3 separate regions of the Homo sapiens genome follow, and all the other regions are reported to be linked to region 1. Evidence: microRNA targets listed by miRTarBase, many of them from high-throughput screens and not tested one by one. Region 1 holds a microRNA gene; each other region holds the end of a gene's coding sequence.

Region 1 (4,210 bases):
TTGGGAGGGATGAAGGAAAAGGGCAAAGTGTGTGACACAGCTCTCTCTTAAGGAAGTTCCTGGAGGATGCCTCAGGACATGAAATAAAATTGGCTAGTATTTAGTCATGTAGCCATACCTAGCAATAAGAGAAGCTGGGAAACATTGTCTTTATTCCAGATGAGTGTATGCCCAACTAAAAATCAGGGGTTCTATTACATAAGAAGATGAAGAAAATAAACACAACAGTCTGCCACAGCATCCCCAAATGCCCTTGCTCTCTCCCTCCTCTCCCAGAGCCCCCGTATTTATTTATATACACTGTCAGCCTAGCCCAGGGTCCTAACATGAATATCAAGAAGTGAGTATCTAAAAGACAAATGAGTGTTTCTCCAGCTAATACTGAAGATCCCTCTCAAAGCATAATTTCTGATGCTAACAAAGTCTTTCTCTTTTCTTTTCTTTTTTTTTTTTTTTTTTTTTTACAGAGTCTTGCTCTGTCCCCTAGGCTGGAATGCAGTGGCACAATCTTGGCTCACTGCAACCTCCACCTCCTGGGTTCAAGCAATTCTCCTGCCTCAGCCTCCCCAGTAGCTGGGATTACAGGCGAGTGCCACCATGACCAGCTAATTTTTGTATTTTTAGTAGAGACAGGGTTTCACCATGTTGGCCAGGTTGGTCTCCAACTGCTGACCTCAGGTGATCTCCCAAAGTGCTGGGATTACAGGCATGAGCCACCGTGCCCGACCTTGTCTCTTTTCTTTCTAAAGGCCCCTTCCCAGTAAGGATGAGGAAAGATGGTAGGGGTCTGGGGCCAGGGGGAATAGGGATCCTGGCCAGCCCCATATATTAATTAATGAAGCAACTGTTAGTGTGTCCAACACTGGCTCCTCTAATCCTTGCCCTAAAACATGGCACTACGATTACATTCAGTTAGCAGATGGGGGAAAAAAACAGACTCAGAAAGCTTAAGTGACTCACCCCAAGTCACACAGCTAGAAGTGGCAAGGACAGCAGGGCTGGTGTGGCAGCTGTCACAGCTCACCCCTGAGCACAAGGTCAGGTGCCAAGTTCCTGGTGGTGGCTCTTTAAACAGCAAGTCCCAGCATGTCCCCTGTCACCGGGTCTGCCTGTGGTCTGCAGCCTCCCTTGTGGAGACCCTGCTTGTCTGTCTTCCCTGCACCCACAGGAACAGGATCGTTTGTGAGCATGCCTGAGGGAAGCCAGGGTTGTGTTAAACTGTGGCTACAGCCGAGACCCGTGGACATTGTTCTCTTTCAGTTTGGAACTGGGCCTCACTCCAGAGCTCGGTGCCTGAGCCTGAGCCTCCACTCAGAGACAAGCTCATCAGCTGCAAGACAGTCAGGGAGGTGCAGGCAGCCCCCGCAGCTTGTGAATCAGTGAGTGAGCTTAGATATATAAAGAACCCCGGCAAATGATGAAAAACTTCTGCAGATGGCTGGTGGTGATGGTAGCACAATGTGAATGTACTGAATGCCACTCAACTGTACGTTTAAAAATGGTTAAAATGGTAAATGCTATGTTATGCATATTTTATCACAATAAAAAAACACCCCAAAACTTAGTGGCTTAAAAGAGCAATCATTTATCAGCCCATGATTCTGCAGATCTGCAATTTGGGCTGGGCTGGGTTGGGCAGTTCTTCTGCTGGACTCACCTGTGACCAGCTGGCAGGTCACCTGGGAACCGAATGGTCTAGGATGGCCTCATGCAGTGTGTCTGGTGGTTGGTGCTGGTTGTCAGCTGGGTGGCAGTGGTGACTGGGCCACATACCTCCACCTGCCTAACCCAGGCACATTCACATGTTGGCAGTTGTAAGGGTCCCAAGAACAGCGTGAGAGGGCAAATCTCAATGCACAAGCACTTTTCAAACCTCTGCTAATCATGGTTGATGGTGTCCCATTGGCCAAAGCAAGTCACCTGGCCAAACCCACAGTCAGTGTGGGAGGGAACTACACCAGGGACTGAATCCAAGGAGGTGTGAGCAAATGGAGTCACTACCACCAGTCACACAACTTGTCCATGAGTTATTGTTGCAACTATCAAGCCTGGGTGACTACACAGGTGCATTAATTTTCAAAACAGAAAAGAAAGCTGGTTGCCCAAATCAGCATCTACTTTAGCCATTGAAGACACGAGATGGCCCCAGGCAGGAGTGCAGTTTTCAAAAATGAAGGGAACATTCTAGCATGACGTCGTCTCTTGGAGATCCAGAACAGAACCCACATCCCCAGCTCTTGGGGCTTTCTGTGAAGTTTCGGAGAGCAAGCAGGGTGCCCCCAGCTCTTCCTGGTTGGTGGAAGCGCCAGCCTCTCCAAGTGCATCCACTTCTTAAAGGCAAATCGTGATTCCCAGGCCCTGCCCCATCAACACAGATATGCTAAAAGCAGGGTTTGAACTAGAGATGGGTGGTGAGAACCAGGCCAAAAAATGACTCCTTCCGCAGTGTACTGGATTTCCTTTCTGCCCTGTCCCCGGATAGAGCCCCAGAGGAGAACGGCTGTTTGCTTTCTTTCCAAAATGAGCTCAACTTTCCTTTGGGAAGAAGGAGGTGGAGTTGTCCTGCCCCCATTACTGAGCAAATCAAGAATGGAGGGCCAGCCTCTATACCCCGCCGGCTGACAAGGAGGGCAGCCATACCCACACAAGAGTCAGACAGTCTGGGTGACCCCATCAATCACCCCTGTGTGACCTTGAGCAAGTTACTTAGCCTCACATGGTCTGTTTCCTCATAGAAGTGCAACAACGACAAGATTAACCCCTCTTGAAGGGCCATCATGAGGATCCTATGCCCTAGCTCTTGCATGAGACAGTCCAGAGCACATAGAAGATGCTTACTAGCCACAGCTTGTCTTTTACGGTGGCTCTCTCCCAAGCCACAGGAGAAGAAAGCTTCTATGAGCTAGGCCAGGGTAACAGACCAACAAGGTCATTTGCAAACCCACATCTGGGCAGCAAATCTCACAGCCCTCCTTTCATCCAAAGGGCTTGATCATGGCAGCGGTGCTTCCACCCCCCTGACGCAAGAGAGACTCCCTCTGCCTTCCCCCGAAGCCATCACTAAGTCTCCACCTAACATTGTGTAAGGATGTCCCAACCATCCCTCCAAACCCTACTTCCACTGGCTGTGACAGGTGGCCAGACAGGAAGGAGGTATTACCTTGGTGTGAGAGTGGAGGGTTACAAGCTACCTTCAGGGTGCTACCTTGCAGGTTTCAGAAAACAGGCCAAGCCGCAACCCCATACACCACCTCTCCAGCATGCGGAAGCCGTGCTGCTGAAAGCATTTTGATTTTCCTCTTCCCTTGGCTTATCCTCTCCCCCTCAAATGCCATCTGCGGGGGAAATAGAAACAAGAGAGCATTTTAAAGACTTCTTGTGGTCTAAAAGCAGCAGTCCTCCAGGATGAAGCATCCTTAGGAAACCAATGACTGATTCTTTCAACCCTATTCCATGAAGCAGAACCCCCAAATCGTCCCCCTCTGATTTTACATCCCCTTGAGTTTGCCAGATTTTACCACCCAGCATCCTCCAGTGTCCCAAGCAGACCCGCAGCACACACCTGATTAAGCAGGTGCCAGACCCCCCCACCCTCACCCCGGGGCAGGTTTTGCGTGTTGACTCTCTCGGAACACTGCCCCTACCTGGTTCAGCTGGTTTATTGCAAGTTAATTGGTCTCATCCCTTCCCACTCCCCAACTCCATCACCCTTGGTTATTTATTGCTATGTACCAGTTACATAATGTTTTCTCTTTCGTTCATGAGGTAACAAAAATGTCTCTGCCTTTTTATTTTTTCTTAGACAGGGCTGGAGGGAGGAAAACAAGGGGTGACCCAGAAGTCTGCATGTCACCCTGGCCCTGAGGAACACTTAGAGATTCCCTCGCTTGGGTTCTGCCCCAGAGGATGGAAGAGATGAACTGCCACCTTTACCAGTCAAGCTGAGAAGGCTGCAGGCCCTCTGAGGTTCTGGGTGGGCTCCCGGCCTCCCCCTGGCTAGGGAAATATGGCCATTGGTAAACTGGGGAGAGAGGTACATGGACACAGGGCTGGGGTGAGGGGGCAGTAAAGGACCCTGATAAATCTGTCCTGGCTTTAAAGCTCCAAATAGGAGCTTGCCTTCATGGGCTCCTTCCTCCAGGTTCAGAAACCTGGACAAATAGCTCCCCACTTCCCAGGGTCAATGACCAAATCTGGATGGAGGGGGAGG
Region 2 (4,210 bases), not on the chromosome of region 1:
TTTTTTCCTGCTTGCTACAAATATTATTGTTGTCTTTTTAGCTTGTCAACTTGATAGTTATTGCATTAACATTTTAATTTTCATTTCTTTCCTTATTGTTGAAGTTGAATTCTGAAGCTGCCTATGATTGTTGTATTAAATGCCAAAATATATAATGTTGACCAAAAATGCGTTGAGCATTTAAAAAATGGAGGTGTCTTTGTAGACCAGAGGTGATGGGTTGAGAATATATTTTGCCAAATCCTGCAATTTCACTGCTGGAACAGATGGTTTAGATGCAACGTGAGGTTATACTGGGAGTGGAAAGGTGGAGGGAAGGAATTATTTCTTAGATTCAATAACAATTTTTTACTCACGTAGGTTCTTAAAGGTGGACAGGAAGCACCCACAAAACCCAAAGGTCGCCCCAAGAAGAACTCCATCCCCACATCAGAAGAGATTGAAGCTGAAGAGAAGATGAACAGCCAGGCCCAGGGTCAGGAGCAGCTGGAGCCCTCTCAGGGGCAGGAGGAGCTCTGTGAAGCACAGGAACCGAAAGCACGTGATGTCCCCTTAGAGATGGCAGAGCCACCAGACCCGCCCCAGGAGTTGCCAATACCCTCTTCGGAACCCCCACCATTAAGCTAAAGTAAAACCCTTTTGAGGGAAGAGGGAGACTGGGGAGAAGGGAAAAGAGAGAAGGCAGGGAGAGTAGGGAGAGAAAACCTTCCAGCAGCCCAGTAAACTGCGGGCGAAGAGATCTACCCGTCTCCCTCCCTCCCACAGTTACCATTGGCCTTGTCATCGCAAGCATTTGACAAAGACTTGCTTGTCTTGGGCCTGTCACCTCCTGAAAGGCTGCTTTAGCTGTGGATGCCCTTGATTAAGGGAGAGAGCGCCTAGGAGCTGCCTGCCCCAGCTGGGGTGACGGCTGTAGGGCTGGGTCTATGTTGCAAGCCCTATATCCTAGCATGCAGTGGAAAGTGCTTAGCTCTCTCCCTCCTGACCTCTGGGCAGCCAGTCATCAAAGCAGAGAGACGTGGCGGCATGTGGGCAGCATGCCCAGGTTCCTTGCTGACTCAGCACTTATTTCTGTAGTTTTAAAAAAGAATTTAATGTTTTTGGTTGTATTTTTTTGGGGGGGTGAGGGTGGGCAAAAACATGGGGGTAGTTCTGAGTTGTTAGAAATGTTTCTGAATCAAGTTTGTTTGAAGACACGTGTGCCTTTGTACCCATTATAAGATGGTCATAAGACCCAAGAACTGATAAGCTTTGGTTTTTTTTTTGTTTTGTTTTGTTTTTTGCTTCATTTACCCATTCATGCCTAGGGTTCCATTATTGGAACCCTAAGCTTGTGGGAGTTATTTCTATCCTACTGCTCAAGGTCATCACCAAGATCTGATTTTTCATAAAAAACATTTGTGACCTTCGGCATAAATGGGTTAAGGTGCCATCCCTGAAACTGCAATGCAGATATGTTCAGATAACTTTTATTTTTTAATTAAAAATAAATCTTTCAAAAGGATTGAGTGTTTTGTGTCTTCTGAGGAGTGTATCTAACCCTTCCTGAATGTGTCCTATGGGAAGAGAGATCCAGAGAGTGAACCAAACTAGGGGGGCCACCTTTTCCCCATCTATAAAACAAAGGATTGGGCCAGGCCATTGGTGTCCAAGTGCTGAGAGCTGTGGGAGTGGAACCGAGCCTCCGGGATGAGGACAGGGCAGAGTAGCTAGGCTCTCCCTTCCACCTCTCCCACCGCCTTCTGCCAGAGCAGCTCCCTTCTCAGCCGCTTCACATTTGGGGCGTCCAATGGTCTTACTTTTTTAAAGAGGTAAGAAATGTATATGCTTCAAAAGTCAAAACTATAAAAAAAGAAGTCTTGGGCTGGGAGCAGTGGCTCACGCCTGTAATCCCAGCACTTTGGGAGGCCCAGGCAGGCGGATCACCTGAGGTTGGGAGTTCGAGACCAGCCTGACCAACATGGAGAAACCCTGTCTCTACTAAAAATACAAAATTAGCTGGGTGTGGTGGTACATGCCTGTAATCCCAGCTACTTGGGAGGCTGAGGCAGGAGAATCGCTTGAACCTGGGAGGCGGAGGTTGCAGTGAGCCAAGATCATGCCATCGCACTCCAGCCTGGGCAATAAGAGCGGAACTCTGTCTCAAAACAAACAAACAAACAAACAAACAAAAAACAAAAAAAAACTTGCTTCCACCCTGCCCTCTCCTCCCCTGAATCCCCGGTAGGTAATTATTTTTATTGGTTTCTTGTTCATCTTTCCAGGGTTTCTTGACTAAGTATTCATTTGGATGATGGGCTCTGCAACTTTTAACAAAAGAAGACCTGAGAACTACTTGACTAGATGTGCTGGGTGATTTTAAATTTAAAAATTGTGTTCCACGTTAATTTAAGACCAAAAAGAAGGAGGCTCTAGATTTCCTAGCAGGAGGACTCTGCCTCTGTTTTTTTTTTGTCTGATTCTCATGCATTCTGGCCCAGAGCCTGATCTCAGAGGGGTCACCTTTATGATCACTGCCCCAGCGTGCTCACCTGTGATGGCTTACAGGGCCGAGTGCCCATTTAGTGGACTCTCAGTTATTAATTACACACAAACTCTGCCCAGTTGCAGGCTTGGAGAATACCAACTTTCAACAGTGGCCTCAACAAGGAAGCCAAATCTGTTACTACTTCTGTAAAACAATCACATAATTCATTTCAAAGTTAAACAGGAAAGATCCGCGTGTTTTCCATCACCTGGCAGGCCGCCTGCTTTTCTCCATTAACAATCAGAAAGTGACTGCAATTTTGACTTTGCCAAGGCAGTGCCTCATCCCCTTTGTTATTGAGATCAACAGAGAAAGCAGTCTTTTTCTTAACTCTTGTGAATAGACAAAGGAGGGGAGGATTTGGCTTCTGAGAACCAGTTTGAGCAGACCACACCTAGCTGCCTGTGCGAGGTTGCTTGCACCAAGCAGGCAGAACGCTGTCTCCTCCACCTGTAGCCCACCCCATGGTACAGTTTTATGATCTGCCTACCAGGTGGTGTCACAATGAGCCAAAGAATGTGCACAATGGCCAAAGTAAGCCGGTGGGTCAGTGTTAGTTCTGTGTCAATCCTAAGGAAGTGTTCTGTCCCATTCGCGCCACCCCAGAGAGGCCTCCTGTCTGGATGCTGGCTTCCCAGGATGGTGTTCCATCTCTTGCCCTGGGCTCCCATGATGTCCTTTTCTTTTTTTTTAAGTTCAGGGGTACATCTGCAGGTTTGTTACATCGGTAAGTTTGTGTCATGGGGGTTCGTTGTACAGATGATTTCATTGCCCAGGTATTTCAGCCTAGTACCCATTAGTTATTTTTCCTGATGCTCTCCCTCCTCCCACCGTCCTCCCTCTGGTAGGCGCCAGTGTATTTTTTTTCCCCCTCTATGTGTCCATGTGTTTTCATGATGTCCTCTTCTGAGGTGCCTGACAGTGACTGTCACCGCACAATATACGTGTCCATACACAGTGGTATTCCTGAGCGCTGGGTTCTGGGAGCTATTTCGGACCTCCGACTCTCACTCCTTGGCATGTGACCTGTGCTTTTGTGTCTTGCCTGTAGGGGTTGAATTCATTGGTGAAGGTAAGACCTCTGATGATCTTTCCTTGTGTTTTGGAGGGTCCAAGCCCAAGACTTGTCTTCCAGCCTCAGTTATGCGTAGCTTTGCCTGGTGACCCAGAGAGGCCAGGCTGGGCCTTTTAAAATGTTATTTTTTTAATTGACAAATAAAAATTGTGTATATTTATGGGGTATAACATGATGTTTTGAAACATGTATGCATTGTGGAATGGCTAAATCAAGCTAATTAACATATGCATGACCTCACATATTTATCTATGGTGAAAGCACTTAAAATCTACTCTCTCAGCAATTTTCATGTATACATAATTCACAATAGTCACCATGTTGTACAATACACCTCTTGAACTTATTTCTCCTAACTGAAATTTTGTACCCTTTGACCAACATCTCTCCAACCTCCCTCTACCCGCTACCGCTGGCAATCACCATTTTACTCTTTGCTTCTGTAAGTTCAGCTTTTTTAGATTCCACATGAAAGTAACCTAAACGCCCATCAATGATAGACTGGATGAAGAAAATGTGTTACATATACACCATAGAATACTATGCAGCCATAAAAAAGAACAAGATCATGTCCTTTGCAGGGACATGGATGGAGCTGGATGGAGGCC
Region 3 (4,210 bases), not on the chromosome of region 1:
CTTGGCCTCCCAAAGTGCTGGGATCACAGGCGTGAGCCACTGTACCCGGCCTATTAACATATTTTTTGCCTTTTGCATTTAGGTCTGGAGCCCATTTATAGCAGTGCTATCCAATAAAAATATGTTAGCTACATATGCAATTTTAAAATTTCCAGCAAACACATTTAAAAAGTCATCAAAATAGTTGAAATTCACTTTAATGATACTTTTGAAACCCAATATATCTAAAATATTATTTCAACACATAATCAATATAAAAATTAAGGTATTTAAAGTTGTTGTCCTCTTCCATGCTTCATACCTGGTGTTTCAGAGTCATGACACACTTGGTTTGGCTACATCTCAGTAGCCACACATGGCTGGGTGGCTGCTGCTGTGGACAGCATGGACCTAAAGTCCACTCTTGTAGGTGATGTTAAGAATGCAAATATATTTTTCTCTACATAATCCTATTTTTTTTTTTTTGAGACAGGGTCTCACTTTATTGCCTAGACTGGAGTGCAGTGGCATGATCTCGGCTCACTGTAACCTCTGCTTCCCAGGTTCAAGCAATGCTCCTGCCTCAGCCTCCCAAGTAGCTGAGACTACAGGCACATGCCACTACACCTGGCTAATTTTTGTAGAGATGGGGTTTCACCATGTTGCCCAGGCTGGTCTTGAACTCCTGAGCTCAAGTGACCCACTCACCTCGGCTTCCCAAAGTGCTGGGATTATAAGCGTGAACCACCATGCCTGGCCAAGTAATCCATTTTTTTTTTTTTTTTTTTTTTGAGATGGAGTCTCGCTCTGTCACCCAGGCTGGAGCGCAGTGGCGGCATCTCGGCTCACTGCAAGCTCCGCCTCCCGGGTTCACGCCATTCTCCTGCCTCAGCCTCCCAAGTAGCTGGGACTACAGGCGCCCGCCACTACGCCCGGCTAATTTTTGTATTTTTAGTAGAGACGGGGTTTCACCGTTTTAGCCGGGATGGTCTCGATCTCCTGACCTCGTGATCCGCCCGCCTCGGCCTCCCAAAGTGCTGGGATTACAGGCGTGAGCCACCGCGCCCGGCCCAAGTAATCCATTTTTATCTGCCATCTCTCTCCATTGATTTGTGCTGCCTGCATTTATTGTATTTTTGTGTCTAACTTGTCTCATAGCCCTCACCGCCCCATTCCATCCTGTTGTCTTTCCTGGAATTTTTTCTTTCTTCCACTCACAGCTGAAGGTGTTTTCTGACTTAATTCCTGACACTATGCTTCCCCTCTTCTATGTCCTGTTCTTAAGGAATCATGCCCTGAAGTCCTGCTGCCGCATATGCAGATGCTGCTCGGGGTCTTCAGTCTCACCTCTCCGTTGACAATGCCTGCCCCTACTGCAGGACTGCTTCAATTGGCTGTCCTATTTACACTTACGTGTCGTGTTAAAATAATCATTTCTCTATTAATTTCTCCATATACATTTCCTTCTGACATTTCCAATTATTGTTTCCCTTCAGTGCCCCCAGGCTTGCCAGCTTGGAGTGCAAATACCTAGATTCCCTGAGCACCCCCAAGGTATGACTGTCTCTTCAGTGGAGATTTTACAGTTGTATTTGAAGAAAAGATGCTGTGTAGTGCTGATGGATTCTTCCACTTAGTCCCATGACAGATTGTTCTAGTTACGCGTATCCACCTGTTGGCTGTGGAACAGTAAATCTACCCATCTTAAGGGGGAAATTATCCTGCAGGCTCTCTGGTCTACCGGTTTGGAGCCCACTCTGGGGCTGTGATGTGCTAGTTCTGGGCCTGCACACACCTAACTCGGTCTTCGTCATGACTGATGATAGGCCCGCAGTCAATGACTAAAGATGGGGCTGCCTTCCTGGAAAAACGGTTGTCTGTGTGTATAGGAAACAATGAAAGAACACGCTTTTCCTGTTGGAGGCCACCAAGGAGTGCCCACTTCCATCAACATCTGGAGACAAACACTGTGCCCTGAAAGCTCCGATTGCCAAACCAGAGACAAAGGAGAAGCCACCCGCTCCTTTCTAATACTTCATCAGATCCAGAAGGTAGTCTCAGCTGGGCATGGTGGCTCACGCCTGTAATCCCAACAGTTTGAGGCCAAGGTGAGAGAATCACTTGGGCCCAGGAATTCGAGACCGACCTGGGCAACATAGTGAGACCCCGTCTCTACAAAAAACAAACAGACTTAGTCGGGTATGATGGCATGTGCCTGTGGTTCAGGCTACTCGGGAGGCTGAGGTGGGAGGATTGCTTGAACCCAGGAGGTGGAGGTTGCAATGGGCTGTGATTGCGCCACTGCAGTCCAGCTTGGCTGACAGAGTGAGACTCTGTCTCAAAAAAAAAAAAAAAAAAGAATATATATTATCCTCTGTGTGTATATTTACATGCTTGGGCTGTAAAGTCACCTCATGGCTTCCCAGAGTGACTTCATTCTGTTGATCAGTTTATTGGAACCTGCCACTTCTCAGATCCCTGTCTGAGGTCCCTTGATCTACTGGAGAGCAGACGGCAAGTGGGGGCAGTAAGCACCCGCTGTGTGCTCAGCTTTCCACCACTGGGCTGAGCAGTGGCTGAGACTGGCTGGGGCTGTAGCAATGCTTCCCAGTCTTCCAATTTGAAAACAGTTTAGAGATCACAAGTGAAGAAAATTGTGCACCAGGGAAGGAGTCCCTCATTGCTTTTTAACATGAATACTGCTTGTTGACATCATCCCAACCCATGGTGAACTACTTTGGTTTAAAAAGAGGCTTGGCATTGGTCAACCCAGCACACTGGAGGTCACTGTCAGAGGGAAATGAGACCAGGTCAGGGAAGCTCTCAGTGTGACACGGCTCTTCAAGAGCTTGGAGGCTGGGGAAACGTGAGATGAAGGAGACCAGAACGGAAGGAGAGGACACAGGCTTGGGCAGAGAGGCTGTGGTCAGGAAAGCAAAGACACCCAGAGGCGGTGAGAGAAGCTGAGCTGTTTAATCACCTCCTTGGCCAGACTCAAGGCGGTGGCTGTCCCCGAACAACACACCTGGAAGCCATTGAGAGCAGCTGGAGATGGAGTGGCAGCTGGAGTTACAGGGTGGGGGTGGGGAGGGAGGGCTCCTGCGCCTCTGACTGTCATCTGGCACTTCTGCCCCCAGGGCCTGCTTCAGCTCTGAGAGGTTCCTGGCTGGTCTGAGGGGTGAGGAACCAGAAGGCAGAAGGCGAGTGCCCTCGCATGGCAGGAGAATGACCCTGAGGCAGGGGCAGCCACTCCCCACATGGCCTATGTTGAGGGTGCGGCACTGTCCACACCGTGGTGAGGGACAGAGGCACGAGGCTGGGGAAAGGGGAGAAGTCGGCGGGGGTGGGAGAGGGGGTTACCTGGGTCCCACCACCAGTCTGGAATTAAACAGCAGAAGAGAAGGGCTGCCCTTGGGAACATGGACTCGTCCCCAGTGACAGTTCCTGGTGATGGGTTGACCTTGGCAACAGACCCTAGCAGCAGGCAGTTGTCCTGACAAGAGGGCGGTCCCTGTCGACTGTCCCTGGCAGTTTCCTGAACGGAGGGAGGGAGTTGGCCTGGGACCTTGCCCCCAACTACTTGTTCTTCTTAAAGAAGCTGAAGCGTTTTTCTCGCTCTCGTTCTCTGCCGTCTTTGCTGCGGAGCACAACAGGCCCCTCAGCCCCGACGGGTGACACTGGGGGCATGGTCATGGCCCGGGTCATGCCCCGGGTGGTGCTGGGCACCACCGGCTCTTCAGGCTCTCCAGAGGCAGAAGACGCTGTGGCAATGGCTGCATTCACCACCCGTAGCCACGAGCTCATCTCTGCCTGTGGATGGAAAGACCCTCAATCAGCTTCAAGGACACTGTGCTGAGTTGGCCGCAGTGGACAGCAGGGAAGTGTAAGAGGAGGAGGCAGAAAGTGAGCTGACTGTTTCATGCTATTAGGAGAATGTGGCCGGCTTAGACAGGGAGTGCGGCCTGGTGCGGCCGTCGCACACATCCAGTCTTACCACAAAGGACAAGACCAGGAAAAAGAGGGAGGACAGGGAAAGAAGGGGAGTCTGCAGCTGGAAGCTTCTGGAATGGCACGGACAGAGAGGAACACGAAGGACAGCTCACCTCATCCTTGGCCTGGAATAAATATTCTTTTCCATCCTGTAAGCTGTTGGGAGAGAGAGGCCACAGGGCAGAGCTGAGAATCCGGATCTGCCAGGTAGCTGCTGGTGAGAGCGTAATCATGACCCAAC

Evidence for each region. Region 1 holds the annotated microRNA hsa-miR-1587 (UUGGGCUGGGCUGGGUUGGG, at 1,617-1,636, shown strand). A microRNA usually pairs through its seed, bases 2 to 8, with sites in the 3' UTR of a target mRNA and lowers its output. Matches are read on the target gene's strand: a 7mer-m8 pairs with bases 2 to 8, a 7mer-A1 pairs with bases 2 to 7 and ends in A, and an 8mer does both.
Region 2: the mRNA of BARX2 is a reported target of hsa-miR-1587. Seed matches in the 3' UTR shown: 7mer-m8 at 713-719.
Region 3: miRTarBase lists SPTBN2 as a target of hsa-miR-1587. Seed matches in the 3' UTR shown: 7mer-m8 at 2,541-2,547, 8mer at 2,374-2,381 and 7mer-m8 at 2,263-2,269.

The regions. Positions count from the first base shown.
Region 1 is chrX:39,835,946-39,840,155 of GRCh38, forward strand. MIR1587 (microRNA 1587) reads left to right here and starts at 1,616; the gene lies at 1,616-1,668. RefSeq lists a silencer at 3,865-4,053.
Region 2 is chr11:129,450,776-129,454,985 of GRCh38, forward strand. It overlaps BARX2 (BARX homeobox 2), which reads left to right. Exons shown (of 4, transcript NM_003658.5): 4 at 361-1,504. The coding sequence ends at 627. Among named protein-coding and RNA genes, the nearest start is that of BARX2, 77 kb to the left of the region's middle. RefSeq lists an enhancer at 2,542-3,043.
Region 3 is chr11:66,682,316-66,686,525 of GRCh38, forward strand. It overlaps SPTBN2 (spectrin beta, non-erythrocytic 2), which reads right to left. Exons shown (of 38, transcript NM_006946.4): 37 at 4,083-4,125; 38 at 182-3,789. The coding sequence ends at 3,556. Among named protein-coding and RNA genes, the nearest start is that of RBM4B, 6.5 kb to the left of the region's middle. RefSeq lists an enhancer at 3,463-3,963.